Linked DNA regions of Homo sapiens: all the other regions are linked to region 4. The links come from fine-mapping of genetic effects on gene expression. A gene starts in region 4. Each other region holds a variant in brackets. All regions are shown on one strand. Distances are from middle to middle.

Evidence for each region. PIP is the estimated chance that this variant, and not a neighbour inherited with it, causes the effect.
Region 1: its variant is the best candidate, but not a certain one, in a credible set for the expression of KDM1A in nasal epithelium (TOPMed, PIP 0.62).
Region 2: its variant is the best candidate, but not a certain one, in a credible set for the expression of KDM1A in whole blood (TOPMed, PIP 0.58).
Region 3: its variant is the best candidate, but not a certain one, in a credible set for the expression of KDM1A in whole blood (TOPMed, PIP 0.62).

What each region holds. Positions count from the first base shown.
Region 1 is chr1:23,036,348-23,044,347 of GRCh38, reverse strand. The region is part of intron 2 of KDM1A (lysine demethylase 1A); the gene reads right to left. MIR3115 (microRNA 3115) reads right to left here and starts at 43; the gene lies at 1-43. The variant T/C (reference allele first, on the strand shown) is at 3,957.
Region 2 is chr1:23,104,303-23,112,445 of GRCh38, reverse strand. LUZP1 (leucine zipper protein 1) reads left to right here. Exons shown (of 4, transcript NM_001395462.2): 2 at 3,319-3,424. Among named protein-coding and RNA genes, the nearest start is that of LUZP1, 60 kb to the left of the region's middle. The variant G/A (reference allele first, on the strand shown) is at 4,120.
Region 3 is chr1:22,926,460-22,934,602 of GRCh38, reverse strand. No RefSeq gene overlaps it. Among named protein-coding and RNA genes, the nearest start is that of LACTBL1, 42 kb to the left of the region's middle. RefSeq lists a silencer at 4,041-4,225. The variant T/C (reference allele first, on the strand shown) is at 4,225.
Region 4 is chr1:23,015,780-23,023,894 of GRCh38, reverse strand. It overlaps KDM1A (lysine demethylase 1A), which reads right to left and starts at 4,427. Exons shown (of 21, transcript NM_001009999.3): 1 at 3,948-4,427. The coding sequence starts at 4,298. TEX46 (testis expressed 46) reads left to right here and starts at 8,043. Exons shown (of 3, transcript NM_001242521.2): 1 at 8,043-8,115. RefSeq lists enhancers at 3,250-3,935, 3,936-4,623 and a silencer at 4,111-4,180.

The sequences.
Region 1 (8,000 bases), 21 kb before region 4:
GCGACTCATGAATTCACCACCAACTAGTAAACCCATATTCAGAGAGCTCCTTCTTCTGGAATCAAGGCCCAGGGAATTACATCATAGTCTTCCAAATTCTGGTCAGGAAGTTTCAACTTTACATGTTGATTCTTGTTGAAAGGCAGTGGAACAAAGTACATAGTATTTCTAATCACTAAATCCTTGCTGTCAGTCTTATTTAATATTAATAGTCTGGATGGGGGAAAATGGATTCCGAGTGTCTTTTACTAACGGCTGCTAGACTGAAAATGGAGCTGACATAGACTCTAGAATCTGGCATTGCAATTCAGCATCAACTTAATATCCGTTTAACTTTCTAATTTTAATGAAAAATTATCTCCTTCTCTTCAAAGCAAGGAGTATAATTAAAAGACTCAGTCTCCAAAGAAGTTTCATTTACTATACACAGTAGACACTAGTACAGTTAAATATGCCAGTGCTTCCTAAATAAAACTAAAGAACACACAATAAGACACTGTGTGTGTGTGTGTGCCAAGTACTGTAGATAAACACACACTTGTGGTAACACAGAGAAAGGCAGGCAAGATCTTGAATCTTCTACTTCATGCTACATAATAAGCTTTGTTAAGAAATTTTCCTCACTGATTAATATGTAGAAGTAACTTCAAGAAAAGAATCAAAGCTTGAAAATTCAATCTGATAAAGAATAGATTGTCTTCTGAACTCTTCCAAAATCTATCATCAAGACAGATGCTATGATGCTCTTAAGCTTCTAGTCACCTGGTACACTATAGGAAAATGAGTGTGATCTTTGGAAGACATAAAATACCACCTCCCAATGATCTAGATAAACTCAGACAAGCTTCATTAAAGTTTATTTTAAAATACGTACCCCAATAAGAAAGCAGATTGATTATTCCACCATTTGAGTTAGAAGGGAACAACAAAGAGAATAAAAAGATACTTAGATATAAGAAATTATTTCTGACAATGATATTAGAATGTGTTGCTAGAAGATACATGCTCTGTTATGAAGGTAGAATAGAATCTCATTCTAAACTTATTTTACTAAGCTCTCGTCTGAAGGGTCCTTTAGGTTCAAGAAGGTTATGCTTCTCAGACAAGGCCCAAGGTATACCTATTTACAGCCCTTGGAAAAAGGCATACAATCATGAAGAGACGATCGGGTTACTAAATCCAATCTGCAAACTTATCTTGAAAATATAGGTCCTACATTTTAAACTCTACTATAAACTTAAAATCAGATATATTCACTCTTAGTAAATTCTGGCTTTATTCATAAAAAATATTTTGTAGAGCCGGGTGCAGTGGCTCAGGCCTGTAATCCCATCACTTTGGGAGGCTGAGGCAGGCAGATCACTTGAGGTCAGGAGTTCAAGACCAGCCTAGCCAACTTGGTGAAACCTTATTTCTACTAAAAACACAAAAGTTAGCCAGGTGTGGTGGTGCTCGCCTGTAATCCCAGCTACTCGGGAGGCTGAGGCAGGAGAATCACTTGAACCTGGGGGGCAGAGGCTGCAGTGAGTCAAGATCACACCATCGCACTCCAGCCTGGGCGACAGAGCAAGACTCCATCTCAAAATAATAATAATAGGCCGGGCGCGGTGGCTCACGCCTGTAATCCCAGCACTTTGGGAGGCCGAGGCGGGCGGATCACGAGGTCAGGAGATCGAGACCATCCCGGCTAAAACGGTGAAACCCCGTCTCTACTAAAAATACAAAAAATTAGCCGGGAGTAGTGGCGGGCGCCTGTAGTCCCAGCTACTTCGGAGGCTGAGGCAGGAGAATGGCGTGAACCCGGGAGGCGGAGCTTGCAGTGAGCCGAGATCCCGCCACTGCACTCCAGCCTGGGCGACAGAGCGAGACTCCGTCTCAAAAAAAAAAAAAAAAAAAAAAAAAAAAAATAATATATTTCATAGATTTTTAAAAAATGTTGCCATTGTTTCGTTTGGTTCCAAATAAAACCAAGCTGGATCAGAAAACTGAATTTTATTTGGGCAAGAAAGGGAGCAGGGAGGGACTCAGAACAATGAAACAAATAGTTTCCAAGAATCACACTTAAGATTAGGAATAATACAGCTGTTATCGTTCAAATTATGTTTCTGACTTGGCAAAAATAAAAGTGACAGTCTCTTGTCATGAAGGTATCTCACCACTAAAAACTTAGATAAAAACAGCAAAAAACCGACAAAACAAAAAACACACACTTTGAAGCTAGCCTAAGCCTGAATTACTTTATCTTTCCTATTCCTCTCATTTCCCTTCTTTTCCAACTATAATACATGTCATACAATAAACTCACTAATTTAAGCTACAGGTAGCTCTTGACTGATTTTTGTGTGTGAATCAATGGTGCTTTGATTCACAAAAAAAGATGGATTTCTTACCCCTGACTTGCGTACTCAATAGGTTAACCAGGACAAAAGGGCAACGAGGCAGTCTTTTTTGTCTTCTGGTTTTGAAGAAAGGAATTAAAAAACCTCTTAAAAAGATTTTTTTTAATTTAAAAAAATGCAGGAAAATGTAGAAAATATTCAATACCCTGCAAAGATTTTTAAAAGGGATCCCATAACAACAAAATGTCAAAAAAGAAATGAAACTCCAGGCTGGGCACAGTGGCTCACGCCTGTAATCCCAGCACTTTGGGAGGCCGAGGTGGGCGGATCACGAGGTCAGGAGTTCAAGACCAGCCTGACCAACATGGTGAAACGCTGTCTCTACTAAAAATACAAAAATTAGCCAGGCGCTATGGTATGCACCTGTAATCCCAGCTACTCAGGAGGCTGAGGCAGGAGAATCGCTTGAACTCGGGAGGTGGAGGTTGCAGTGAGCCGAGATTGCACCACTGCACTCCAGCCTGGGCAACACAGCAAGACTCGGTCTCCAAAAAAAAAAAAAAAAAAAAAAAAGCAAGAAAAGAAACTCAAAAGTATTATTTAAGCAGAGGAGTAGAAAGAAACCAAGCAGAAGGTACCACATAAGAAATGATGGAAAACAAAATTTAAAAGTGCTTAAAATTAAATTAAGAAACAAGTTATTTATCTCTTGATAATGGTTTAACTTGCTTGGAAATAAAGAATGAAGTTATTATTTTCACTCCAATCATACTTGAGAGTATTTTGAAGATGCCTACTTCTCCAAAGACAACTGAAAGATCATCTTTACTAGCAGTATATTATAGACCAATTCTTGAACATTTTCTTAAAAACAGCACATACACAACACTGCTTGCAGCTAACTTTTCATCCAAGTAGTCTCTGATTATGATATATATAAAATCCCTTATTCATCTGCTCTTTGGGTCTTTCCAGCCTAGGACTCTGTTTCTGATAGTGGCTCAGGACACATTAACAGCAGGCAAGTAGCGCTGTTAGCTTTCCATGAGTGCAAATTCAAAACAGAAAATGAAAATATTCAAAAGCAACTTTGTAATATCACCTTGATTTTGGCACCACTACACAAGAAACTCCCTTTTGTTTTTATCCCAAACCACCAAACCTACAAAATAGTCCTCAAGCTTGAAGCAGAGACTCTTTTTAATTTTTTAATTATTTTTAGAGACAAGGTCTTGCTCTGTCGCCCAGGGTGGAGTACAGTGGTGCAATCACAGTTCACTGTAACCTTGAACTCCTGAGCTCAAGGGATCCTCTTGCCTCAGCCTCCTGAGTAGCTAGGACTACAGGCATGTACCACCATACCTGGCTAATTTTTTTTTTTTTTTTGTAGAGACGAGTTCTCGATATGTTGCCCAGGCTGTTTTTGAACTCCTAGCCTCCCACTTCAGCCTCTCAAAGCAACAGGATTATGAGCGTGAGCCACCACAATCGGCCTAAAGTAGAGACTCTTCATACAGCTTATTTGTACACAGCTACTCCAAATTGAAAATGAAGATCTTTTTGATTTATCTTACATAACAGCCTTTCAGTTGTCTTCTAGACCTTCAGATCTAAGAG[T/C]CCTTCTTGAAGCGTGAAGTGTTGTAGTTATAATCACATTACTGAATGTTTTCTCATCTGAATTCAAATACTCAAGAGATCACTCTTCCAACATCTTAAAAGGAAGTCTATGTTGACTTTCAAATGCTTTTATCTGGCAAACAAACAAGGAGGTGAAAATCACTGGTTGGTTGTTTCCAGAAACACAGATTCACATTTTGACTAGTTTCTTGGAATCACATTCAAATTACAAACATTTTAAGAAACTTCTAAATCTAGGAAGCAACGATTTTCCAATAGAAGATAAATTTACCAAAATGGCCAAATTTATGGAATAAAAGTGAAGGCCAACCTACTGATTTCAATTGAATTTAATAAATTAGCAGGTGAAAGAAACATTTCAAAAGTTAAAGCCAACTTGGAATATATGTCTCTACCGTATTAACGCACTAATTGAGTTTCTTATTTAATAATCAGTGTTTACCGTATCTGCCCCAAAACTGCAAAGCACAAATACAAAAGTAGAACAGGTAGACTCTCTGTTTTCAAAAAGCTTATAATCTAGTTGAGAAAAGATGAAAAATACCTACAAGGAAACTTTTGTTGTTAAGAAACGAGAAGCTGACACAGTCTTGGAGAATCAGGGAAGCTTTCAGAACAATTCCCGAGAGATCTGGATAGACTGCGAGGCAGTGAAACCACGACTATGGTCCAGATCATTTACAAAGATAAAGAGAAAAGCACAGACATGGTATGTGCAGAGGACTGCTCGGTACCTACTTTCAGAAGGAGATGGTCTGAAAAAGCAGTGGGAGATCAAGTGGATTGGTAAAATGATCCCTTTCCAGTACCCAAACCTGAACGTGATTTTAGTAGTAATGAAGGAAAAGTGTGTGATCTTTGGCACAAAGACAACAAAACAAATGCTATTTTAGTTAAACTAATCTGGCCACTTTGTACGAGATGGATTAGAGGGAAAACCTAGATAAAGGAGATCCAATTCAAAGGCTATTGAAATAATTTACATACAAGTTGAAATTCACTAGAAAAAGGTGACAGTAAAAATGGGTAAGGCCTAAAAAATGAAAAAGACTGCACAGTAAGATGCATGACTTTACAACAGACTTGGTAAAAGGGATAAAGAACTTTCAGGATGACTCTAGGGTTTTAAGTTCAGAAGACTAGTAATGCTACAAACAAAATGGGAAATTTGGGAGACTGGCTAATACAATTAAATGGAAATGTTCTAAAGATGGTTGGAAATTAAACAATAGAACTCAGAAGTAAGAATGGGGCTAAAAGACTTCAAAATAGCATGGAAGTAATAATAGGCTCAGATAATTTGAAGCAGTCATAAATGCATGATTAATCTCATGAACATAAGGAAAGTCACAGTTTCAAAAAGGAATTGACAGTGGCTCACACCTGTAATCCCAGCACTTTGGGAGAGACCAAGTCAGGAGGATCACTTACAACAAGGAGTTCAAGACCAGCCTGAGCAACAGTCAAAATGAAATTATGAGTTCCAACTAGAATAGCAATCCCTGGGTTACAGTATCATGTAAAATACTGAAGTAAAACAGCCTTCTTAAGGTTTAGAAAAAAAGAAAAATTGTTTTGCTTGAAGCAGGAGCTTGCCTGGAACTTCCACTGAACTGCTGAAAGAACAATAACACCACAGATATGTGCTTGAAGACTTCCACTGGGTAGTAGCAAGGATCTTATCAAAAGAAAGTAAAAGGCCCTACAAGCTAGGGAGAAATGCAAAGCTTTAGAAGCCAATGGAAAGAATTTACTTTTTCACATATTATTTCCCTCCACATTCCATAGTAGAAATTTTCCTGATCCTTACTTATTTTGCTGCAGTCTTGGTTTGTGTTCACTTTTCAAAATGTTCCAGAGAAAGCTTACAATTCAGATGTTATGTGTCCAACTACCAAGCTTAAGGTGTGTCTGGTTAATAACAAAGCTTACAAAACATTTCTTATAACTCAACAGCCGATGCAAGAATTTCAATTATATTATTCTCTTAAGGAAAGAAAAAAAAACTATGTTAGAAAGTCCCAAAGTCTGTCATTCTCATGATTTAACTTAAAAGATTATTATCAAGATTTAAGTTTTACACACACACACACACACACACACACACACACACACAAACAGTTCCAGATGCTTAAAAAGTTATCTATTTCATAATCGACTCATTACTGAAAATGGCCCACCACAAACACTTTCCCAAAGTAACACAGTATGTGTGTCTGTCTGGTCTAAAGCTGCCCTGATTTTTTTCCTAAATAAAACACCAATCCACCCTATTCTTTGTTCAATCAACTCTGCTTAATAAATACAAGATGTTTATACATAAAGGTGGGTTTCGCATTTTCTCATTTGATTCTCATAACAAGTCTCATTTTGTAGACGAGAAAATCCTTACAAATCTTGTTCTTCTATTACAACATGATCAGACCCAATAAATGATGGCAACAAAAAGAATTCAAATAAATTATAAAAATAAAGGTGATCAGCTAAACAAATTACTATTTTGCCTTAATAAAAAGTACAACAAATCAATGAAATGACATCATTAAGAAAAGCAGGTCAATCTCTCAAAGACCAAACATAAACTTGTAGCATCTGATTCAAGGGTTCTTATCGACCAAAAGCAGTAAATAGTTAAAAATCAAGGATCTAAAACTGCTTCATCCTTTCATGTTTAACACAAAATTTCCAAAACCCAATTTTAGGGAGAAACATTATTTAAAAACAGCTTCTGAGAGAGCTATTATACAACATGGTGACTATTGTTAATCACAATACATTGTATTCTTGAAAAATACCAAGAAAGTGGGTAAGTGTTCTCACCACAAAAATGATAACCATGTGAGGTAATGCATGTTTATCAGCTAAATTTGGTCATTCTGCAATGTATTTATACTTCAAAACATCACGCTGTACATGATAAATACAATCTTATTTATCAATTAAAAAAATAAAAACTTCTGAGTTCTCACCATACTTTCTATACATTTCTATTGTAGTTTCTTCATTGTAGCTACTTACTAACATCTGTAACCCTAAACTGAATTGCACTTTTTTTTTTTTTTTTTTTGAGACAGGGTCTCACTCTATCACCCAGGCTGGAGTGCAGTGGTACGATCCCAGCTCACTGCAACCTCTGCCTCTCCGGTTCAAGTGATTCTGGTACCTCAGCCTCCTGAGTAGCTGAGATTACAGACATAAGCCACCACTCCCGGCTAATTTGTGTGTGTGTGTGTGTGTGTGTATATATATTTTTTTTAGTGGAGATGGGGTTTCACCATGTTGGCTGGGCTGGTCTCAAACTCCTGGCCTCAAGTGATCCCCTTGCCTCGGCCTCCCTAAGTGCTGGGATTACAGGCATGCACCACACCAGGCCACTGGACTACAAATTCTTTGCAGGTGGATGTACTCTTTCTCTTTGAACCCTTAGAATCCAGCACTGTGACTGTGACAAAATAATTATCATCGTACAATAATATTTGTAGAATAAAGTCAATGAGGAACTACTACATTTGGGGGAATCTTATTTTTTTGTAGAAAATGCCTATTTTTTAAAAAATTTGCCCTCCATACTACCAATTCTCTACTCTTCACCCTTCCTACCTCTATATGCCTCTAGAATTTTTATATTGATATCACACTTAAGAGTTTTTTGCTTTCCATTATGCATTTATGTCTACACTTGTGTCTCATACTAGGCTATAAATTATCTGAGAGTGGGGACCGTGTGTTGTATAGCGTATTTATCTTGATCCATTCATAATGCCTCAAAATATAAGAACATAAGAATTCTGTTGAATTACCTTTTCAGCTTGTCACTTTCTTCCCTCAGCCCTCCAGTAAGGTATTTTGGAGCATAGGTCCAAATCAGAACACCGAAATGTGTTCCAAAAAGGCTGGAGTGGTGAGGGGGCGGGGGAGGGGGGGGGCGTGGCAAGAAAACTAACCCTATGCCTATTTTCTGAATGTATGCATCATACTTCATAAAATGAGAATTCAAATGATTTCAGGCATTTATTTTACACT
Region 2 (8,143 bases), 89 kb before region 4:
CTCTGGGAAAGGAGGTGGTTGGACTCTGTGATCTGTAAGGATCCTTCAGTCTCTGCTTCTAGGCAGACAGACACGTACACACATACTACCACCACTATCACCACCAACAGTAACAGAAACAATAAGTGCCAGAAGAGATGCTTGAGGGAAGTGATGAGGATGGATCTGTCATGGTGGAAAGCTCTCTGAAGCAGCATCACTAAGGAATTTGAGGATGTTTACAGTCATCCTCTTGTTTTGGGGACAGAGGGCAAGTACGCTGAGGAAGCAAGAAGTAAATGGCATTCAGAAGAAAGAAATCAGTTACTGCTTACTTCTACCCCTTAGAAATATGAGAGAACGTAGACAGTTGAAAACAAATCAGGATTAGCTGGAGTTCCTCTTTCCCTTTGGCAGTGCATTCTGTCTTGTTTTGAAGAGAAAAGCCCCTGGGCCTTAGTAACATGTCAGCAAATTTGGCAGTAGGTGGTAGGTGCTGGGACAGTAGATTTTAGCAGGGGCGCTGCTATCACTGTTAGGGCTGCAGAGACCTTAGGGGAGATAGACCAGATTTATGTGACCATTTCTTAGAGTTCAGAATTTTTATGTAGGAGAGGTTTTAGGCTATGCAGAAGAAGATGAGTGTGTGTGTGGGGGGGCGGTGTTTGTGTGTGGGTGTTGTGTGTGTAAGGTGGGTGGGGAGGGGGAAAGAGACAGGTGGTGATGGGGTAGGACGGAAAGTCTGTGGAACTGTCCTAAAACTATTTGAATACCAATCACACTTACTTTAACTTCCATTGATTATTTTTTAAAAGCAGAGGGTGGAGAGCTAAAGCTTCCCCCACATCCACCTAAGCTATCTCTTGGGTGCCGCCTTGGTATAGATCGTTTTTAAAATTATTTTTAAATATAGAGCGTCACTCTGTCATCTAAGCTGGAGTGCAGTAGGACAACTGTGGCTCACAGCAGCCTCAAACTTCTGGGCTCCAGGTGATCCTCCCGTCTCAGTCTCCCAAGTAGCTAGGACTATAGGTGTGCATCACCATGCCCAGCTAATTAAAATTTTTTTTTTTTTGTAGAGATGGGGGCCTTGCTTTGTTGTTGTCCAGGCTGTTCTTGAACTCCTGGGTTCAAGCAATCCTCCTGCCTTGGCCTCCCAAAGTGCTGGGATTATAGGCATGAGCCACTGTGCCTGGCCTAGATCCTTTTTTATACTTATTTTCTAGCTGTTTTTATTATCAGTAACTTTTTTTTTTTTTTTTTTTTTGAGACAGCGTCTCACTGTGTCGCCCAGGCTGGAGTGCAGTGGCGCGATCTGGGCTCACCACAAACTCCGCCTCTTGGTTTGAAGAGGTTCTCTTGCCTCAGCCTCCTGAGTAGCTGGGATTATAGGCACATGTCACCATGCCCAGCTAATTTTTGTATTTTTAGTAGAGATGGGGTTTCACCATATTGGCCAGGGTTGTCTTGAACTCCTGACCTCAGGTGATCTGCCCGCCTTGGCCGCCCAAAGTGCTGGGATTACAGGCGTGAGTCACCGTGCCTGGCCGATACTATCAGTAACTCTTCTCTTTGGGAGGCCAAGGTGTGAAGATTGCTTGAGGTCACGAGTTTCAGACCAGCCTGGGTGACATAGTGTGACCCCATCACTACAAAAAAAAATTCTTTTCAAATTTTATTCTCTTGAGGCTTGAGTTACTACTGTTCCCCTCATCTTTTAAGCTGTTTTTAAAAAACTCTCATTATTTGTCCATTGTAATTCTAGCCGCCTTGCTCTCTGGGAAGATAGAGGCAGGGATGGGTGTGTGTGTGTGTGTGTGTGTGTGTGTGTATGTGTGCGCGTTCATGCATGCGCGCAGGTGCAGGTATGTGTGCATGTGTGCATGTTTTGGTGGAGGTGTGGAAGTTGGATTAAAGGGACCAATAGTCTTGGAAGGCAGTCACAAGGTGGCTTGCAGGGATGTGTAAGGGAGGCAGTTGTGATGAAAGAAGGGAGGATAGTTTGTAAGATCATGTACAAAAGCTTTAGGTTTACCACTAGCTTAGAAGCTACCTTTCCATTTTCCTCAAGAGTAAGATAACACAAGAAGTTTGACCCAGATCTTCCATCTGTAGTAGCTCTTCTCTAATTTTAGGGGTAAGATTCAATGGGATGGTAGGCTTTTCAACTCTCCTGTAGAAGCCTGCTTGTTTCAAAACTGGAGGGTAAGTTTGCAGAAAGAAAAGCTCTATTTTTAGTTTTAATTGATATTGGGTGGTTCAGGGCTCTTTTGAGGACCGAGTCTAGAGGGCAACAAAATGAGAGCCAGCATGGTGAAGGGACTTTCAAAGTCAGACAGACTTGAGTTTAAACTCTGTCATTTAATAACAAGCTGTAAGACCTTGGACAAGTCACTTCTTGAAACTTAAATTCTTTATCTGTAAAGTAGAGGTAACATTATCTTCTTATTGTCTTATATAAAACATAAAGCATAGTGCTCAGGGTTGGTAAATACTCCGCAGATGTTTTTTTCCTATCTTCTAGAACATCTTATTTTTAGTAGAATCCTTGCTTTTCTGCTAAATAATTGTGTGACTCACCCTTTCTAAGTTTTAGTTTCCTTCTGTAAAACAAGGACATTTAACTGAAGGTTGAGTATCCCCTTATCCGAAATCCCTGGGACCAGAAGTGTTTTAGATTTCAGATTTTTAAAAAAAATATTTGCATGTATACAGTGACATGTCTTGGGATAAGACCCAAGTCTAAACATGAAATTCGTTTATGTTTCCTATACACCTTATACATATAGCCTGAAGGTAATTTTATTTTTCCCCAGGGGACATTGAATAAACCTGAGTATTGTGTGCCTGTATTTTGACTGCGACCTATCAGATGAGATCAGGTATGGAATTTTCCACTTGTGGAGTCATGTGGGCACTCAAAACATTTCAGATTTTGGAGCATTTTGAATTTGGGATTTTCAGATCAGGGATGCTCAACCTGTAGCTGATTTCTGAGATGCTTCCTAGCTGTAAGATGTCATGTACATTTTTAGACTGTTGAGGAATGTTCGGGTGTTTTAATTTAAGCAAAGACAGTGGGTTCTACCCTAGGACCATATCATCTTATAGGAAAGGGGAAGTCTCCTACAGCCAAATTCTTTCTTGACTTTCCTGAGAGAGACATAGCCAGCTTAGCCAGGTTCCTTTAGTGTCAGGATCTAGATGCAGATCTTACCTTGGCCCCTTGCTGACAGTGAATTGTATGTGAAAGTCTTTGGGACAGCCCTCTGGGTCACCTCAGTCTTGGTATGATTCATGCATTACCTATCTCTTCCATTCTGTTTATATTCTATCCAGGTCAAGAGACAACTGCCTTTGAAAGAGAGTGAGTGACTGTTTCCAAAACAGCAAGCATAGGGAGAGCCGCCGGAAGTATTGACGGAAAGCTTGAATTACCTACATGGTAAGTATGTTGTACAGTGAAACCTGGGTGTACCAATAGAATTGGGTGGTTTCTGAAGCCACTATAATTTTGCCACTACTGGAAGTGGGGAGGAAAGTCAGTATTTGTGATGGCCTATTATGAACCAAATACTATGCTGAGTACTTAACCAACCAACCTGATGAGGGTGAAAAATCCTTGCATGAAGTTAGCAACCGTAAGAATTAGGCCACCCTTAAGAAGTAGCTACCATTTATTGAATATTTACTCTATGTCGGGCGCAGTCCTGTTGGACATGTTATCGCCCTACCAACCCTGTGAGGTAAGTACTGTTGTCATCACCACAAGGAAACAAGCTTAAAGAGGTTAAATAACTCTTCCAAGTTCACACAAGTAGTAGAACTAGGTTTCAAACCTGCATTATTTTCTTTCCTTTTTTTCTGAGACTGGGTTTCGCTCCCATTGCCCAGGCTGGAGGGCGGTGGCGTGATCATGGCTCACTGCAGCCTTGACTTCCTGGGCTCAGGTGATCCTCCCACCTCAGCCTCCCTAGTAACTGGGACTACAGGTGTGCACCACCATGCCCAGCTAATTTTTTTGTAGAGACTGGGTCTCTGTATTGTCCAGGCTGGTCTCAAACTGCTGGGCTAAAGCAGTCCTCCTGCCTTAGTCTCCCAAAGTGCTGGGATTACAGGCATGAGCCACCACCCTAGTGG[G/A]TTATTTTCATTACACTATAATGTTTCCCTTTTAAGAAAGTTACTTTTTGGTTGAGGCTGTGACTGATTTAACCTTGGAAAAGCAAAGCAAAATACAAAACCTTTTGATCAACAATTAGGTTCTTTTCCTAGCCATTTATGGATTTTATGTGCCAATATTTTATTGGTTGGTGTTGGCTAAGGCAGAGGAGAGCACTAATGAAATAGAAGAGATAGAAGTGAGAACTTGAACGGTCAGTGGCCAAGAGACCTGGTGGTCTTGGTTGCTCCTGATAGCTGGATGATAGTTAGAGAAAGCTTCCCTAGGAAAGTAGAGCAATAGGGTAGCTCAGAATGAGTGGGAAATGGGTTCTCGTCATAGCAGTGACTGGGCATAGGAAAGGAATCTTAACAAAGCCTCTTGCTCTCATGTCAACCCCTCTGAGGAAATAGGTGTAGTTAGGGATAATACAGAACTCTTCTCGAAGGAGTGGAAAAATTCAAGGCAAACTCTTGCCCTGTATTTTTTTATTTTTTGCAAGGCGTAGTCTTGCTCTGTTGCCGAGGCTGGAGTGCACTGGTGCGATCTTGGCTCACTGCCTCTGCAAACCTCCTCCTCCTGGGCTCAAGCGATTCTCCTGTCTCAGCCTCCCGAGTAGCTGGGATTACAGGTGTGTGCCACCACGCCTGGGCTAATTTTTGTATTTTTTGTAGAGACAGGGTTTCACCATGTTGGCCAGGCTGGTCTTGAACTCCTGACCTCAGGTGATTTGCCCACCTTGGCCTCCCAGAGTGCTGGGATTATAAGTGTGAGCCACTGCACCCAGCCTACACATACCTATTACACATAAAATATTTTGCTATATACTGGGGCTAATGTTCTGATGACAAAAAATGGCCACTTACTACACGCTTTAGTTATCGGAACTAAGTATACTGCATTAAACAAAATAGAAAAAGTCCTTTCTCTCAAGGATTATATTCTAATGGGTGGAAACAGATAAAAATGAATAATTAGATATAAATAAATAAACAGGTGAGTAGACAAATAACATCCACTAGATAGTACATGCTAAGAAGACAAAAAAGCAGCGTAAGGTGATAGTGGTGGGGAGCTGAGGGATTGCTCCTTTATGTACAGCAATCAAGGAAGGCCTCTGATGAGGTGATATTTTAAGCTAAGATCTAAAAGAAGTGAGGAGTCCAGCTAGGGAGATATCTGGGGGAAAAGCATCCTAGGCAGAGGGAACAGCAGGTATAAAATCTCTGAGGGATGAGTGTAACTGGTCATGTATAAGGACCCATAAGGAGGCCGTGTGGCTGGATTGGAGTAGTAGGGAAGGAGCAGCAGATGAGTGATGGGACCTAGATCATGTAGGGCCTTACAGCCATGTGACACCTTTGGAGTGCATTGTATTCTAAGTGAGGTGCACTAAAGAGCTTAGAGCAGAGGAGTGACTTGATCTGACTGATGTTTTAAAAGGCCTACTCTGGTTGTTGTGGGAGAACAGACTGTGGAGGGTGGGGAAGGATGGACACTGATGGGAGCAGGGAGACAAGTTAGGAAGCTTTTGCAGTAATCAGTAGTCCAGGGCAGGGATGATGGTAGGTTGGACCTGGGTGGTAGTGGTGGCTAACCAGAAAGCAATGGCTTCTAGACATACTTTGAAGGCTCTCAAATTCTAATTCTCCCCATAGACCTGTTTGATTTTTTTTTAATTTAAATTTTTGGTTTTGTTTTTTGAGACAGGGTCTCACTCTGTCACACAGGCTGGAGTATAGTGGTGTGATCTCAGCTCATTGTAGCTTCGACCTCCCAGGCTCAGTTGATCCTCCCACCTTAGCCTCCTGAGAAGCTGGGACTACAGGTGCATGCCACCACTCCCAGCTAAATTTTGTATTTTTTGTAGAGAAAGGGTTTCACCATGTTGCCGAGGCTGGTCTTGAACTCCTGGGCTCAAGCTGTCTGCCTGCCTCAGCCTCCCAAAGTGCGCTAGGATTATAGGCATGAGCCACTGTGCCCATTTGAGAGGTGTTTGATTTATTTGGAGTTAACGTCTGGGTCACAGGGGTTTGAGGATGTCATTGGAAACTTGACAGTGATCTCTGGTAAAATTCTAAAATTGATTGATCAAAGAATGAGAACAGTGATCCCTAGAAGCCAGCTTGTGTTCACTAAGAATAAATCATGCTAGCTGATAACAATTCTTTTTTTTCTTTAAGCCTTGCCATGATTTTATTTAAACGATCGGTACAAGTTCAGTATAAAAATATTAGAGAATAGACATAAGCAAAAACAGAAAAAAAGCACATTATCCAGAGATAATTACCATATAGCAGTTTGATATATATATCAGAGCATTTCATTTTTGGAAAGATTCCTAGGTCGCTGGAGGATTGGAATGTGCTACAAAGGTAATGTGTCTTAAGTGCTAACATTAGGTATTTAATGTTTTCTCATGTGATCCCAAGACAAAAAAAAAAATTTTACCTGGCTTTGGAGCTTCTTGAATAGTTGCACTCAGGAATTGTAATAGATCAGTGTTAATCTATAGGAGGTGTTTTTAATGATTTTGGTTATATTTTGTTTTTGAACATCAATTTGGATGAAGATATAGAAAAGACATGCCTATGAGACTTAAATAGCGAATGTTTGCAGGCTAGACAGTGTAGAGAATATTTAGTCAAGGGATTGAAACTAAGAAGTTGAAATCCAAAAATAATAAATAATAATTTAAGCTGAAACTTACATGACACTTACTATAGACCAGGTACTAGTCTAAGCAATTCTTGCATTAACTTATTTACACATACCATAACCTTATAGGTATTGAAGCATAGAGAATTCAAATGACTTATCCAAGGTCACACAGCTAGTAGCTAATAAAGTCAGGGTTTGAACTTAGGCTGCCTGGCTTCAGAGTTCGTAAACTTTAATCATTGTATCACGTTGCCTGCAAAAGAATTAAGCCCCATATTTCAATTATTAAAAATGAGATTTAACAGTTTATTTGGAAACAAAGCCAGTATGAACCTACAAATTGGTACTGTGGCTATCAGATTCGTTCATGCAATCTTGGACTTCATTATTAGAACTGGGCAGACCAGGTCATCTTTCATCCATCCCACCCTTTTACCCCATTGCTACTGTCCTGGTTCAGGCCCTTATCCCATCTCTTGCCTTGACTATTACAATAGCACCCTAGTTTATCCTGCTAGAATGGCCTTTCAAAAACTGCAGTTCTGATTGTGTTACTCTCTTACTTAATCCCTTTGTCCAATACAGGTTGCAAATTTGCTTCCCATATCCACTTGCAGGCATGTATGTTTTGGAGGGACTATACAGTGGTATTCTTTTTATTTCCTCTTTTTTGAAATCTGAATTCATTGGCTACATTTAAGAGATTATATATAAAAGTAGGGCATAGCCCCTCTTAGCCATAGTCCTTCTAGGCCCTTTAACTCATTTAAATCATTGGCCTGATCTCTTTGGCACCTGCATTTCAGCCTCTGGCATAAAGGCTAAGCATCTTTCCTAGAATGTAGTGCCTAGATCTGAAAATAGTCCCCTTTATGTAAATTTGGCCAGTACAGAATACAATAAAACTATTACATTAATTTATTTACAAAACATTTATAAGGTTCCTACCTTGCCCCTGTCACTGTATTCAGTGCCCAGGACTGAAAAATGAAGATAACACAGTCCCTGCTCTCAGAGCCCAGCAGAGGATGACAGATATTTTAAGTATCATGGATATAGTGATAGAAGCATCTACAGAATTTAGGATGGTGCATTTCTCTTGCGGGGAAGGATGGTTTGAAAAGGCCTCAGAGAACAGATGCATTAAAAGATGTTTACCATTGGGCCAGGCGTGGTGGCTCACACCTGTAATCCCAGCACTTTGGGAGGCCGAGGCTTGTGGATCACTTGAGGTCAGGAGTTCAAGACCAGTGTTGGCAACATAGTGAAACCTGTCTCTACTAAAAATAGAAAAATTAGCTGGGCGTGGTGGCGCACACCTGTAATCCCAGCTACTCGGGAGGC
Region 3 (8,143 bases), 89 kb after region 4:
ATAGCAGCAGTAGGGAATATACACCCATGTGTCAAGGGAGAGGAAACTGAGATCCAGGAAGGTTCAGCAATTTGTTCGAGGTCACACAGCTGGAAGCTCTTTGATTCTTCCAGAATCTACTACTCAAGTAGCCATGGACAAGAGGTTCACCTGCCCTGCCCCATCCTTCCAAGAGCATCTGCAATATTCTCCCTCCCTTTCCTGTGACCTGACAGTCTTTCTTTTATGAATGCAGATTTTTTTTTTTTTTTTTTTTGAGATGGAGTTTTACTCTTGTTGCCCAGGCTGGAATGCAATAGCATGATCTCGGCTCACTGCAACCTCTGCCTCCCAGGTTTAAGTTCAACCTCCTGCCGCAGCCTCTCGAGTAGCTGGGATTACAGGTGCATGCCACCACGCACAGCTAATTTTTTGTATTTTTAGTAGAGACAGGGTTTCACCATGTTGGCCAGGCTTGACTTGAACTCCTGACCTCAGGTGATCCACCTGCCTCGGCCTCCCAAAGTGCTGAGATTACAGGCATGAGCCACCACTCCCAGTCTGAATGCAGAAATTCTAAGACTTAGAGCTGGAAGTGTCCTTAGCAAACATCTCATCACTAGTGAAACGGATTCTAGTGGTTTTTGAATATTTTTTTCTTTTTCCTGCCAAGACATAGATGTGGTAGGTTTTTGAATATTTTTAAGCTATGTAATTTTTGTTTCAAACAACATGTAAATCTGATTTTTTGTTTCTGCTTTTTTTTGAGACAAGGCCTTACTCTGTTGCTGAGGTTGGAGTGCACTGGTGCACAGCTCACTGCAGCCTCATGACCTCCTGGGCTCAAACAGTCCTCCCGCCTCAGCCTCCCAAGTAGCTGGGACCATAGACATGTGCCACCACACCCTGCTATTTTTTCTTTTCTTTTCTTTTCTTTTTTTTTGTAGAGACAGTCTCACTATGTTGCCCAGCTGGTCTCAGACTCCTGAGCTTAAGCGATCCTCCCACTGGGCGTATCCCAGCTACTTGAGAGGCTGAGGCAGGAGAATTGCTTGAACCTGGGAGGTGGCAGTTGTAGTGAGTCGAGATCGCGCCACTGCTTCAACCTGGGTGACAGAGTGAGACTCCGTCTCAAAAAAAAAAACAAAAAAAAAAAAAAGAAGAAAAAAAAAAGACAGAAAAGAAAAGGAGCCCTTCAGAAAACCTGGGGGCCCTGCAGGGGAAGAGGAAAAGCAAGGGGTTAGGATTCCTTTCCCCACCTGGGGAGATTAAGACTCCGTGGAGGGAAGACCCAAGCCAAGGACTCTGGCTGTGGCCTCCAGCTGGGAGGTCAGGCTTCAGCCCCTTCCCACCTGGGGGAGGAAGAGAGATGGTGAAGGGGAAGACCCCAGGGCCTCGGGCAGGGAGGAAGCCTGGATCAACTCACTCCTAAGGGTGCGCAGGATTTATCAGCTATTTCTCCAGGAGTGGTAGGATTGAAAAAGAACAGATGAAAGAAGGCAGTGCTAAAAACCCAAGATATGACCCTTTAATGGTGCAATTCCAGACATTGGGGATAAGTGAGGGGCCCCTGGCACCCAGTGAATCACACCATTTAAGGACACTGGGGAAAGAAGGAAGGCAGCTGTTAGATAATTGTCATAGCAATCCCGAGGGTGGGGATTAGAAACCCCATTTTGCTCAGAGAAGTGAGCTGACTTGCCAAGGTCACAAGTTTATCAGTGGGATCCCAACACAGGTCTCTAGGTCTCTATAACTCTCTGTACCAATCCTTGTGGGATTTAGGAGTGTGAACTGAAGATGGGTTTATTGGGTCACCTGAGTGTGTGCTGGCTGGGCTGGGCACCTGTCATTCTCCCTTGGGCCCAGGGGCTCCTTCATGGCCCCTGAGGCTCACTCCAGAGTTAGTGACCCTGTAAAGCTGCGAAGAAGGATTCAGCCTCAGGCTGCGTTTGCCAGAAATTTGGTTTCTAAGAGGGAGGAGGAGGAAGAAGAAATTCTGTGTATCGCACTGAAGAGCTCTAGGGATGCAGAGAAGACATGGGGAGAGAAGATGCTGGAATTTTCTGAGAAGGGAGTTTGAAAATCTAGGAAACAGTTGAAAGAACTCAGCGTAAGAGCAAAATGTACCTGGGTGTTGCCCCAACCAGGCCACATTCAGCTTGACCTTCAGCGCTTGAGATACCCCATCTCTGTGAGCCTCAGTTTCCACCATTGTGAAATGGGAGAACAGCCCGGTGTTGCATGAGAGATAGTTCACACTGGATATTGAGAGCCAACTGGTACATTTCCAGGAATTTTGGGAGCCAGTTGTTAATGTCATCTTTAAAAATTAAATTCTAGGCCGGGTGCGGTGGCTCATGCCTGTAATCCCAGCACTTTGGGAGGCCGAGGGGGGTGGATCACGAGGTCAGGAGTTCAAGACCAGCCTGGCCAACATGGTGAAACCCCGTCTCTACTAAAAATACAAAAATTAGCTGGGAAGGTGACACGTGCCTGTAATCCCAGCTACTAGGGAGGCTGAGGCAGGAGAATTGCTTGAACGGGGCCCCGGGAGGCGGAGGTAGCAGTGAGCGAGATTGCACCACTGTACTCCAGCCTGGGCTACAGGTGAGACTCTGTCTCAAAATAAATAAATAAGTAAATAAAAATTAAATTCTGTAATAGAAATCACTTATGTCACTGAGGAATGAATGAAGTTCCAACATAATCTTTATTGTTTCACTTTTTTTTTGAGACAGGGTCTTAGCCTGTCGCCCAGGCTGGAGTGCAGTGGCACGATCATGGCTCCTTGCAGCCTTGACCTGGGCTCACATGATCCTCCCACCTCAGTCTCCTGAGTAGCTGGGATTACAGGCACATGTCACCATGCCCAGTTAATTAAAAAAAATGTTTTTTTTTTTTTTTTTTTTTTTTTTGGTAGAGATAGGGTCCCACTATGTTTCCCAGGCTGGTCTCAAACTCCTGGGCTCAAGCTATCCTCCTGCTTTGGCCTCCCGAAATATTGAGACTACAGGCATGAGCCATTGCACCTGGCCTATTTCACTTTTTATGTTTTTTTTTTTTTTTTTTTGAGACAGAGTCTTGCTCTGTTGCCAGGCTATAGTGCAGTGACACGATCTCAGCTCACTGCAACCTCCGCTTCCTGGGTTCAAGCAATTCTTCTGCCTCAGCCTCTCGAGTAGCTGGGACTACAGGCGCGCGCCATCATGCCCGGCTAATTTTTGTATTTTCAGTAGAGACAGGGTTTCACCATGTTGGCCAGGATGGTCTCGATCTCTTGATCTCGTGATCTGTCTGCCTTGGCCTCCCAAAGTGCTGGGATTACAGGCGTGAGCCACCACACCCGGCCTCACTTTTTATCTTACCTTCTTAACTTAAACAGGAATGTCAACCAGCATCCAGTAACTACAGTCGGAAGTTGGTTATTAAACCTGAAATAGTCCACCCTGGTAGTAACCATCTAGGTGGTCATAACATTCAGTGATGAAATATGATGGAGGTGTCATGGTTGGCGGGGTCCATTGGCTGACCCTCCCCAGACTGCCTCCAACAAACTCGCCATCTGAAGACAAACAGCACCCTGGCTAGGTAACTCCAACTGCAAGACCAGTCTCCTAGTTCTTCACCCCAGTGACTGGCTGCTCCCGAGTTCTTCATGTAGAGAAATTCTGAGGCCAGTAGCCTGGAGCTGGCATACATTATTATTACTATTATTTCTCATTTTTAAAAATTTCTGTAGAGACAGGGTTTCACCACATTGCCCAGGCCGGTCTTGAACTCCTGGCCTCAAGTGATGCTCCTGCCTTGGCCTCCCGAAGTGCTGGGATTACAGGTGTAAGCCACCGGGCCCAACCAGTATTATTAATTAATAAGTCAGAAGTGGGGCCTTTGAAAGGGGTACCCAGGGCAGCTGATAGGGGAATAATCTTTGATTCGACCTTCTCTGCTTCCTGCCCCATCACTGTATCTCTAGCTCCTCACACATTGGCCTGGCTCCCAGTCAGGGTAGGGGCGGGGGCAGGGAGTCAAATACCCACCGCTCCCCACCTACCCCAGGATATTATAAAATACTTCTCTCTGGGGCTCAGCTCCGGCCATTGCCTGCCCCATCCCCCAGGGGGCAGAACGGCTCCATGGAAAAAAGGCCAAACTCAGCCTCCATCCCTGCCCCGCCTCCCATCCCCCACTGTCAGTGCAGGGCTGCTTCTAGGGGGTCACAGGGAGTAGCGCTTACAGAGCCTT[T/C]ACTATGTGCCAGGCTGTCTGCTGGGCACTGTGGCCACCCATTAGCCCTATTTAGCCCTCCCTACATAGTGTGGGCCTATTTAGCCCTCACGAAGGCCTTGCAAGGTGGAGGGTTAGCACTCCCAGCTTGACTCTCAGGCCATCAGGGAGACTTTCCACCCCCCTGCCCTTCCTGCCTCCTCCTCCTACCTGAGCCTCCCGAGTAGCTGGGACTACAGGTGCACACCACCACACCTGGCTAATTTTTTGTCTTGGTGTTTTTTTTTTTTGTTTGTTTTTTTGGTAGAGATGAGGTTTTGCCATGTTGCCCAGGCTGGTCTTGAACTCCTGGGCTCAAATGATCTGCCCCCCTCGGTCTCCCAAAGTGCTGAGATTACAGGTGTGAGTCACCACGCCTGGCTGGGTCTGAATTCTTGGTGCTTTTAATAACCATCTAGGATGATGCTGCTGACACCCTGCCCCTGGGTTCCTTGAGCTCCTTGCTTGCCATCTATCCTACCTCCTGTGTCCTGTGGTCATTCCCTTGACTTAACAACAGCAGCCTCTCAATCATCTTAATTTTAAGGACCCCGATTTCCAACTACTACCTCTCATATTCCTAAGTCACTTCCTCCAGCTTCCTCTTTCCAACAATCTCCCCCTGCACCCCAATAACAAATGCACTGGTCCCACACCTTTGCCTTGTCCTCATCCGTCATGCTGCCTTGCGCTCTGTACCTACCTTTGGCCCCAAGGTGTATTGCTATTGTCACTCATTTTTTTTTTTTTTTGAGACAGAGTTTCACTCTGTAACCCAGGCTGGAGTGTAGTGGCATGATCTTGGCTCACTGCAACCTCCGCCTCCCAGGTTCAAGCGATTCTCCTGCCTCAGCCTCCCAAGTAGCTGGGATTACAGGTGCACGCCACCACGCCTGGCTAATTTTTGTATTTTTAGTAGAGATGGGGTTTCGCCGTGTTGGCCAGGCCGGTCTTGAACTCCTGACCTCAGGTGATCCGCCTGCCTCGGCCTCCTAAAGGGCAGGGATTACAGCGTGAGCCCGCGCCCGGCCGCTATTGTCACCCTCGCATTTACTCTTATCTCCTTGGTTCCGCTCTGGCTTTGCCAGACTCATCTGGCTAAATCCCAGACTCCAGATTTACTCCTCTGCCTCCAGACTCATATATTCAATTGCCTGCTTGATGTTTAAGAGGCATCTCTAACTTATGTCTAAAATGGAATTCTCCATCTTCCCCTAAACCGGCTCCTCCTGCAGTCTGCCTCATTTTAGTTAGTGGCAGCTCCATGTTTCCTGTTGCTCAGGTCAGACACTTTGGAGGACTTTTTGGTCCCGTTTCTCTCACACCCACATCCAATCCATCAGCAAATCCTGCTGGCTTGACCTTCATACTGTGCCTGGAACCCATCGCTTTTCACCACTTCTGCTCCTGCTGCCCTGTTCCAAGCCACTCTCCTCTCCCTCTAGGGTTATTACCGTTATATCCTAACTGTCTCCCTGCTTCTCCCCTGGCTCCCCGTGATGGTTGGTTTTCTGTGTCATCTTGGCTAAGCTGTAGAACCCAATAATTCAAACACTAATCCAGGTGTTGCTGTGAAGGTATTTGTAGATGTAGCTCACATCTACAGTCAGTGGACTTTAAGTAAAGGAGATTATCCTCAGTAATTTGGGTGGGCCTCATCCAATCAGCAAAAGGCGCCTTAAGAACAAAATTGAGGTTTCCCTAAGGAAGGAGAAATTCTGCCTCTGTACTGCAGCATCAGCTCCTGCCTGAGAGATTCCAGCCTGCTGGTCCACCCAACGGATTCTGGATGTGCTAGCTGATTTGGGTAAGTCAATTCCTTGAAATAAATCTTTTAATGTATATCGTACCGGTTTTGTTTCTCTGGAGAATCCTGACTGATACATCCCCCCACCATCATTCTGCAAGGCAATCAGAGCAATCCTTTTAAAAGTCAGATCACGGCACTGGTGCTCTCAGACACTCCACAAGCTTTCATCTCATGCGGAGAAAAGTGCAAGTTCCCCTCATGGTCCACAGAGGACCCCAGCTCTCCATACTCTCCCCCTTATTCTTTCTGCTCCAGGCATCCTGGCCTCTTTGCGGATCCTTGAGCACTCCAGGCATCCTCTGGCCTCAGGGCCTTTGCTCCTGCTGTCCCCTCTGTCTGGAAAGCACTTCCCCGGTGAGCCACTCGCTTGCTCCCTCACCCTTTCAGCCATTTCTTTTTTTTTTTTTTTTTTTTTGAGACAGAGTCTTGCTCTGTTGCCCAGGCTGGAGTGCAGTGGTGCTATCTCAGCTCACTGCAACCTCCACCTCCCGGGTTCAGGTGATTCTCCTGCCTCAGTCTCCTCAGTAGCTGGGATCACAGGCATGCCTACCACATCCAGCTAATTTTTCTACTTTTAATAGAGATGGGATTTCGTCAAGTTGGCTAGGCTGGTCTCAAACACTTGGCCTCAAGTGATCCACCCGCCTTGGCCGCCCAAAGTGCTAGGATTACAGGTGCAAGCCACCATACCTGGCCCCCTTCAGTCATTTCTTTGTTCATATGTCATCTTCTCAATGAGACCTTCCCTGACCATCCTGTTTTTGTAAACTGAGGGATAATGTACAAAAATGTGTCTGGTGCACTAATCTTTGTGCCTGTTTTTTTTTTCTTTTTTACGTATGCCTGTACCTGTGCAACCACCAACTAGGTCAAGAAGTAGAACATTTCCAGCCCCTCTGTAAGGTTCCACTCCACACTTCCCAGAAGTAACTATTCTTATGAATTCTATCACCATTGATGAACTCTTCTTGATCTTCATACAAACGGGATCTTAGATTATGTGCTCTTCTGTGTCCATTCTGTCTATTTTAAAATTGCAATCCCGCTCAAGAACTCCCCAAAGCCTTTCCTGCTAATTTTTTCGTGGCCTCCTCCCCACCTAATATATTGTGTTTGATTGTTTAAGTGCCTATCTGCCCCTAGTAGGACATGAGCTCTGTGTGTGCAAGCGTTTTTGTCTGTTTTGCTCACTGCTCTATTTCCAGTACCTGGTGAACTGACCATCGCTTATGGGCAGCCAATAAATATTTGCTCAGAAAATAATGAATTAGGCTGGGTGTGGTGGCTCATGCTTGTAATCCCAGCACTTTGGGGGGCCGAGGTAGGCAGATCACTTGGGGTCAGGAGTTCAAGACCAGCCTGGCCAACACGGTGAAACCCCATCTTTACTAAAAAACAAAAAAACAAAGATTAGCCGGGTGTGGTGGTGTGTGCCTGTAATCCTAGCTACTTGGGAGGTTAAGGCATGAGAATCGTTTGAACCTGAGAAGCAGAAGTTGTAGTGAGCCGAGATTGCACCACTGCACTCCAGCCTTGGCAACAGAGGAGACTCCGTCTAAAAAATTAAAAAAATGAATTAATCTCCATTTTCTAGATGATGACATTGAGGCTTAGAGAAGTGAAGTGACTTCCCTGTGTCACACAGCATTAATGATGGAGACAGGATTTGAACTGTCATATACCTGAACCCAAAGACTGCTCTTAACCCGCTGTTTAGTCCATGGAACCCTCCCTGAATGTCTCCATGCATGAGAGTCTGTGCACATGTGTTCATGTGTCATCGTGGGTAGGAAGGTGAATGAGCACAAGGGTATTGATTTATTTGGAAATATTTTCTAAGTGCCTACTGTGTGTCAGCCACTGTGCCGGCACTGGGGAACTTCTTGGTTAGCAAAACAGACACATCTGTTTACTTGTGGCTGTATGTCTTTGTGTGTACGTGTGTTTACTGCAGTGGATGGATACATGCTTGTATGTGTGTGCTTATGTTGGGAGTGCTTGCCCCTCTCTGTTTGCAGGTGTCTTCTGTTGTGTGTGTGAGTGGAACTCTGTGTCCAAGTGTGGAGGGACCTGAGATAGCGGAGTTTTAGA
Region 4 (8,115 bases):
ATGGGTGACAGAGTGAGAACCTGCCTCCAAAAAATTAATCAGTTAGCTAAAAAAAGAAATCTTTCTTGTAGGAGATAGCTTAAAAAATAACAGTAAAATCTAATAGTGTGCCCCAAACTTACAATCTGCAGATTCAACACAATCACAATCAGAATCCCAGCAGCCCTTTTTGCAGAAACTGACAAGCTGGTCCTAAAATTCATATGGAAATGCAAAGCATTCAGAACAGCCAAAATAATCTTGCAAAAGAAGAACAAAGTTGAGGAACACTTCCTAATTTCAAAATTTATTATGAAACTAAAGTAATCAGGATAGTGTGGTACTGGAATGGACGGAAATATATAATAGATCAATGGAATAGAGTTGAGAGTCCAGAAATAAACTCTTAGATTTATAGTTAATCAATGAGGGTGCCAACTATTCGCTGAGAGAAAGAATAGTCTTCAATAAACTGTGCTGGGACAACATGCAAAATAATGAAACTGAACCCCTACCTCACACCATATACAAAAATTAACTGAGAAAAGATCATCGACATAAATGCAAGAGCTAAAACTAAAAAACTCTTAGAAGAAAACATAGGAGTAAATCCTCGTGACATTGGATAAGGCAATGGTTTATTAGATATAACACCAGAAGTAAAGGGAGCAAAAGAATAAATTGGATCTCATCAAAATCACAAATTTCCGTAACCAGAATATGTAAAGAACTCTTACTAGAAAATGATGAAGACAACTCAATTTTTAAAAATGAGCCAAGGATTTGAATAGTCATTTCAACAAAAATATAAAAATGGCTAATAAACACATGAAAAGATGCCCAACATCATTAGTCATTAGGGAACTGCATATCAAAACCACAATGAGATACCACTTTACCCCCAATAGGATGGCTACAGTAAAAGACAAACAATATTAAATGTCAAGAAGGATATGGAGGCTCAACAAGGTGGCTCCACCTGTAATCCCAGCACTTTGGGAGGCCGATGTGGGTGGATGGCTTGAGGCCAGGAGTTTAAGACCATCCTGGCCAACATGGTGAAACCCTGTCTCTACTAAAAATACAAAAACTGGCCAGAGGTGGTGGCAGGTGCCTGTAATCCCAGCTACTCGGCTGGCTAAGGCAGGAGAATCGCTTGAACCCAGGAGGAGGAGGCTGTAGTAAGCCGAGATCACATCACTGCACTCCAGCCTGGGTGGTGACAGAGAGAGACTGTCTCAGCAAAAAAAAAAAAAAAAAAAAAAAAGAAGAAGAAGGCCAGGCGCAGTGGCTCATGCCTGTAATCCCAGCACTTTGGGAGGCCGAGGTGGGCAGATCACCTTGAGGTCAGGAGTTTGAAACAGCCTGACCAACATGGAGAAACCCCATCTCTACTAAAAACACAATACAAAGTTAGCCGGGCATGGTGGTGCATGCCTATAATCCCAGCTACTCGGGAGGCTGAGGCAGGAGAATCACTTGAACCTTGGAGGCGGATGTTGCAGTGAGCCGAGGTCATGCCACTGCACTCCAGCCTGGGCAACAAAAGCGAAACCCCATCTCAAAAACAACAACAACAAAAAAAAAAAAACGAAGAAGAACATTGGAGAAACTGGAACCCTCATATATTTACTAATGGGAATGTAAAATGGTGCAGCTGCTATGGGAAACTGTTTGGCTATACCTCAAAAGTAAAACCTAGAATTAACATAAAACCCAGGAATTCCTAGGCCCACACCCAAAGAGAACTGAAAACATATTCACAAAATAAACTGTACATTAATGTTCACAGCAGCATTATGTAAAATAGCCAAGACTTGGAAACAAACCCCAATGTGCGTCAAATGATGAATGGGTAAACCAAATTTGGTATATCCATACAATGGAATATTATTCAGCCATAAAGAGTTATCAAGTACTGAATGAAAGCACTACAACGTGAATGAACCCTGAAAACATGCTAAAGCCAAATACAAAAGGCTACATAAGATTTTATATAAAATGTTCAGAATAGACAAATCCATAGACAAAGAGTAGATTAGTGGTTGCCAGGGACTGGGGGTAGGGAGGACTGGGGAGTGACTGCTAATGATACAGATGTCTTTGGGGATGATGAAAAGGTTCTAAAATCAATTGTGGTGTTGGCTGTACAATCTTGTAAATATGCTAAAAACCACTGAATCATACATTTTAAAATGGTGAATATTATTATACATGCATTATCCCAATAAGCCTGTTTTTTTGTTTGCTTTTAGACAGTTTCGCTCTTGTTGCCCAGGCTGAAGTGCAGTGGCACGATCTGGGCTCACTGCAACCTCTGCCTCCCGGGTTCAAGCAATTCTCCCTAACTCAGCCTCCGGAGTAGCTGGGATTACAGGCGCCCGCCACCACGCCCGGCTAATTTTTTGTATTTTTAGTAGAGACGGGGGTTTCATCATGTTGGCCAGGCTGGTCTCGAACTCCTGACCACAGGTGATCCACCCGCCTTGGCCTCCCAAAGTGCAGGGATTACAGGAGTGAGCCACTGTGCCCAGCCAATAAATCTGTTTTTAAAAACATCTTATACGTGGCTTCTGGCCACCTGTCTATTGAAATCGTAAAATAACACTCTTGACTTCTGCCCTTTATTTCATTTCTGAGGGCTGGTGTCACCAACCTCTGTGCTTTTCTAACCCATGCTTTGGTAAAAGCTCCAGAAAGTCTTGCCTCCAAAACGGTCTTTCATCCAGCACTGGTTATACTTTAGAGAGTTGGCTCAAGTAGGCAGATAAATATGAGAGCTCTCAGACTGGGTAATACTCATCTCAAGAAGCTCCCCATACACACTGACTTGGTATTCCCACTTAAAAATTATGTAGACAATTTTTTCAGGCATAAATTATATAATCTGCAAATTTTTATTTAAATGTTGACTACACGCACATATATATCCAGGTTGTTTTTTCCAACTAGACCGACCATTAAATCTCCAGAAAAGGCCCAAGTCTAAAGTCTGCGCCCTAATACTGCCCCAGTGCCCTGCACACAGTGTCCCATGTGGTCCTTTGTTTCAAGGGCTGATGATACCCTGTAACAACATGAATGTGGGAATTACATTCCACTTCCATCACTTATTTAGCTTTGTGACTTTAGGCAAGTTGCTTAAATTGTGTGCCTCAGTTTACTCATTCCTAAAATAGGGCTAGCAATACCTGCCCGTTGATATTTAACAACAACAAAAAAAAGTAATGTTGGTGACACGCTGAATATAGCATCTAGGACACAGACATTTGAGGCAGTCACTGTCTGTATATACTGTTTGGAGTCAAATCTTTTCTTCCCATATATTTGCATTTTGACTATTATTTGCTCTCTCAATCAGCAGCTTCCTCATCTGCAAAATTCTGCGCCAAAAGATCGCTGAGAGGATTTTAAAAAAGAAAAAAAAAAAGACTAGAACTCCTACCACACAGCAGGGTTTTGCTCAAACAAAAACAAAAGCAAAAACGACCCTTTCTTTTCATCTCCCCGGCTAAGGCGATTTCTTCAGCATCAACCTACAGCCCCCTCGTGCACCCAGCTGAAACGCCATCAATATCGCCCAACAGCTTCCAGACCTATCTGTGAACAAACAAGTGAGGTCTCCAAGAACGCCAACCGTAACCCCACGTCAGGGAGCCATTTTCCAGTCAAGAAAATGAAAAGGTGTGCAAGAAAGACCTAAGGAATAAAATACCCCTCCCAGCAATCATCGATGCCCCTTCCCACGTCGCTCGGGACCCAGCACAAAGACCGCAGTCAACACCGGCAAAGACTTTTCCTTTCTCACCCCACCCGTCCAGCTAGAGGGGACGTGGCGTGCGCAGCGATACAAGGGGAGGTCTGAGTGGTCGCAGGGCCCAAGACCCGGCGGCGGCGGGGGAGGGCGGAGAAGCCTCGGGGAAGCTCGGCACCAGGCGGTGTCGTTTGAGGGAAGGGTCGAGCCTTACCTTCGCCCGCTTGCGCCGGCTGGTCCGACGCCCCTCCGGAGTCTCTGCTATTCCAGTTTCCATGGGGGTCGCAGACCCAGGCACGACAGTAGGGCCGGCCTGAGGCCCTGCGGACCCCGGCGGTTCCGCCAGGCCCCCGGGGGGCGAGGCCCGCGGAGGCTCTTTCTTGCGGGGTGTGCGCTCCCCCACCGCCCCCGGCCCGACCTCGGCTGGGCCCGACAGGCCCGCGGGCTGCGCGGCCACCTCAGACCCGTTCTCGGAGCCGCCTGCTGTCCCAGGGCCAGCCTCCGTCCCGGTTGCTGCCGCTGCAGCCGCCGCCGCCGCGGCTGCCGCCTTCTTCCCAGATAACATCTCGGGCCGCCGGGCCGCCGACGGCCGTAGGGGCCGCTCGCTCTGTCGCTCCGTGGGTCCGAAAAGCCTTGCCTCGCCTCGCTTCACGCTGCCCGCGCGCCGCCAACCGCCGTCGCGTACGCACGCGCCAAGCGCGCTCCCGCCGCGCCGGGACAAAAAGGGTCGGAGACACCCACGAGCCCCGCCCCTCCCCCGCAGCCATAGAGCGGCGTTCTCGCGGCTAGAGTGGCACCGCAGCAAAGAACGTGTAGCTTGCCTAGAGCGTCTCCCCGGCGTTTGGAGTGGGACCTGGCACAGTCCGTGGTCTTAGGGCTTCTGGGCCAGACTAAACCTCCGAAGGTGACCATTTCCTCCAGGGACTTTCGGGTTTGCATGCGTGCGTTCGTTCATTCACTCACCCAATTATTCGTTAATTCAACCAGTATTTATTAATGCTTGCCTACTACGTAACAAGGGTTACATTATGAAGTTCTAGCTTTCAAAGAACTTACAGTCTAATGGGGGAAAACACTGAAATATGTTGGTAGAGCGTCTTACTTATTCATAATTGCCCTGCTTGGACTGGGCAAAAAACTTGGAGAGCACAGCAGTTTCGATGGTAGTAAAATGGAGACAAGTTACGAAATCCAGGTTTGAGTCCAGACGGAATTGCTCTTGTCTCCAAGCCTTTGTTCATGCTTTTCCTTCTGGCTGGACCCCAACCTCATTCGCACTCCATGTCTTGCGCTTCTCCCATCCCCCATGTCCCCCATCCCCCATGTCCCCCATCCTTCATGTCCCCCATCCCCATCCACATAACACCTCTTTCTACTCCAGGTTAATTCTTTCTAATAATGATAGTAGCGGTTTATTCTTTTAATTTTTCGAGGAATCCCTTGCTAACCCAAAACTGGAACAGGTCGTGTACTTTTAGCATGCGTGTACTTATTACACAAACAATTGTCTTTTTAATAGTCTGTCTCTTCGAAGTGAAATTGTCAAAAAATTATTCCATTTACATGAAGTTCAAGAACTGGTAAAACTAATCTCCAGTAATAGGCTCCAATCAGCCCTTGCCTGAGATGGGGGTCGGGGGTTGACTGCAAAAGAACAAGAAAGAACTTGCTGGGGGTGATGGAAATGTTTTATATCTTGATTAGGGTGATGGTTACATAGGTGTATATATTTGTCAAAACTCTATGAACTATCCATGTAAAACAGGTATGTTTTATGTAACTGTAGTACTTCAGTAAAGTTGTTTTTTGTAAAAAACTAAGCAAACAGACAAAAAGGCAATCAAATGTAGAAAGGAAAAAAAGTAAAAGCTATGCAAGAAAGAAAATGTATCCGAGTGGCGTGGCACGCACTTGTAGTACCAGCTGCTCGAGAGACTGAGGTGGGAGAATCACTTGAGCCTAGGAGTTCATTCAAGTCCAGCCTGAGCAACATAGTGAAACTGCGTTTCTAAAAAAAAAGAGAAAAGAAAAAGAAAGAAAATATAATCATAGTACAACATATGGCTCAGCTGTGAACTGTATTAACATGACCATAAAAACGTAAGCAGTGAATATTGTTTTATTTATTTTTTCTGTTCTTTTGTTTGTTTGTTTCTTCTTTTTTTTTTTGAGACAGAGTCTTGCTCTGTTGCCCAGGCTGGAGTGCAGGGGTGCAATCTTGACTCAATGCAACCTCTGCCTCCCAAGTTCAAGCGATTCTCCTGCCTCAGCCTCCCCAGTAGCTGGGATTACAGGCGTGTGCCACCATGCCTGGCTAATTTTTGTATTTTTAGTAGAAACAGGGTTTCGCCATGTTGGCTAGGCTTGTCTCCAACTCCTGACCTCAAGTGATCCTCCCACCTCGGCCTCCCAAAGTGCAGGGATTACAGGTGTGAGCCACCGCGCCCCGCCGAGCAGTGAATATTGTTTTAACCAAAGTGATAGAATTACATTAAGAGAATGGAGAAAAAAGAAAGTTTGTGGGGAGAAAGATGAGAAGGTTTTAAGGATTTAGGGAAGTAGGGAGGTTGTTGGGGGAGGTGCTGCTTGGGAGCTAAATTATTTTTCACCATAAAAATATAATACATAATGTTGGCCAGGCGCGGTGGCTCATGCCTGTAATCCCAGCACTTTGGGAGGCCGAGGCGGGCAGATCACGAGGTCAGGAGATCAAGACCGTCGTGGCTAACACGGTGAAACCCCGTCTCTACTAAAAATACAAAAAAACTGGCCGGGCATGGTGGCGGGCGCCTGTAGTCCCAGCTACTCGGAGGCCGAGGCAGGAGAATGGCGTGAACCCAGGAGGCGGAGGTAGCAGTGAGCCGAGATCGCGCCGCTGCACTCCAGCCTGGGCGACAGAGCGAGACTCCGTCTCAAAAAAAGTATATATATATATATATATATATATATATATATATATATATATATATATATATATATATATAAAATACATAATGTCAAAATTGAGAAATCAAAAAATAATATAAGCATACTATTTAGAAATATCAAGGTAAATACAGAAGAAACAGCTAAAAAAGTTGGAATTGGTTGTCTCTAAGGCTTGGAACTTGACGGTGGAAAGAGGTGAGGCAGTGGATTGGAGCTTGTTTTAAATCCTGTAGTTCTATCTGACTTGTTTGCACATTTAATAGTTTGATAAAACTTGAAATTAGATGTTAAAAACATACATACCCTTTGACCAAGTAATTCTACTTTCAGGAAAGCATTCTAGGGAAAGATTCAGTATGTGTACAGATTTAACTTCAACACTGTGTATCTCAGGTTATACGTAATGACGATAAAGGAGAACTAACCTAAAAACCCAACAAAGGCCAGGCACAGTGACTTGCATCTGTAATGCCAGCATTTTGGGAAGCCGAGGTGGAAGGATTGCTTGAGCCCAGGAGTTTAAGGCTACAGTGAGCTATGGTCACGCCACTGCACTCCAGCCTGGGCAACAGAGCAAGACCCTGTCTCTAAAACAATAAAAATTTTAAAAAGCCCCAACAAGTGGTAACCAATTTGATACAATCATACACCGCATAACAATGTTTCCATCAACAACAGACTGCATATGAGATAGTGTTCCCATAAAATTATATAACACATTTTTACCATACCTTTTCTACCTTTTCTATGTTTAGACAGAATTGCTACAGTATTCAGTACAGTAACATGCCATACAGGTTTGTAGCCTATTAACAATACACTATACCATATAGCCTAGGTGTGTAGTAGGCTATACCATTTAGGTTTGTGTTAAGTATGCTCTATGATGTTCACACAACAATGAAATTGCCTAATGGCGCTTTTCTCAGAATGTATCCCATCGTTCAGTGAGGCATGGTCCTAGCAAGGCATGATTCTATATTGGAATATCACAGCCACTAAAACTGATATTTTTACATAAAGAATTCCTGGCCGGGTGTGGTGGCTCATGCCTGTAATCCCAGCACTTTGGGTGGCCGAGGCGGGTGGATCACCTGAGTTCAGGAATAGGAGACCAGCCTGGCCAACAATGGTGAAACCCCGTCTCTACTAAAAATACAAAAATTAGCCAGATGTGGTGGCACTTACCCGTTTTTTCCCCAGAAATAACTAATTCATATCAGATGTTTTTATTGTGATAAAATACACATAACATAAAATTTATGATCCTAACCATTTTGAGTATACTGTTTAGTAGTGTTAGATGCATTCACATTGTTGCATAAACAATCTCCAGAATTATTTTCATCTTGCAAAATTCTGTATACATTAAACAATGACTACATTTGCCCCTCCTTCCAGACCCTGGCAGCCACCATTCTACTCTTTGCCTCTATGAATTTGACTATTGTAGA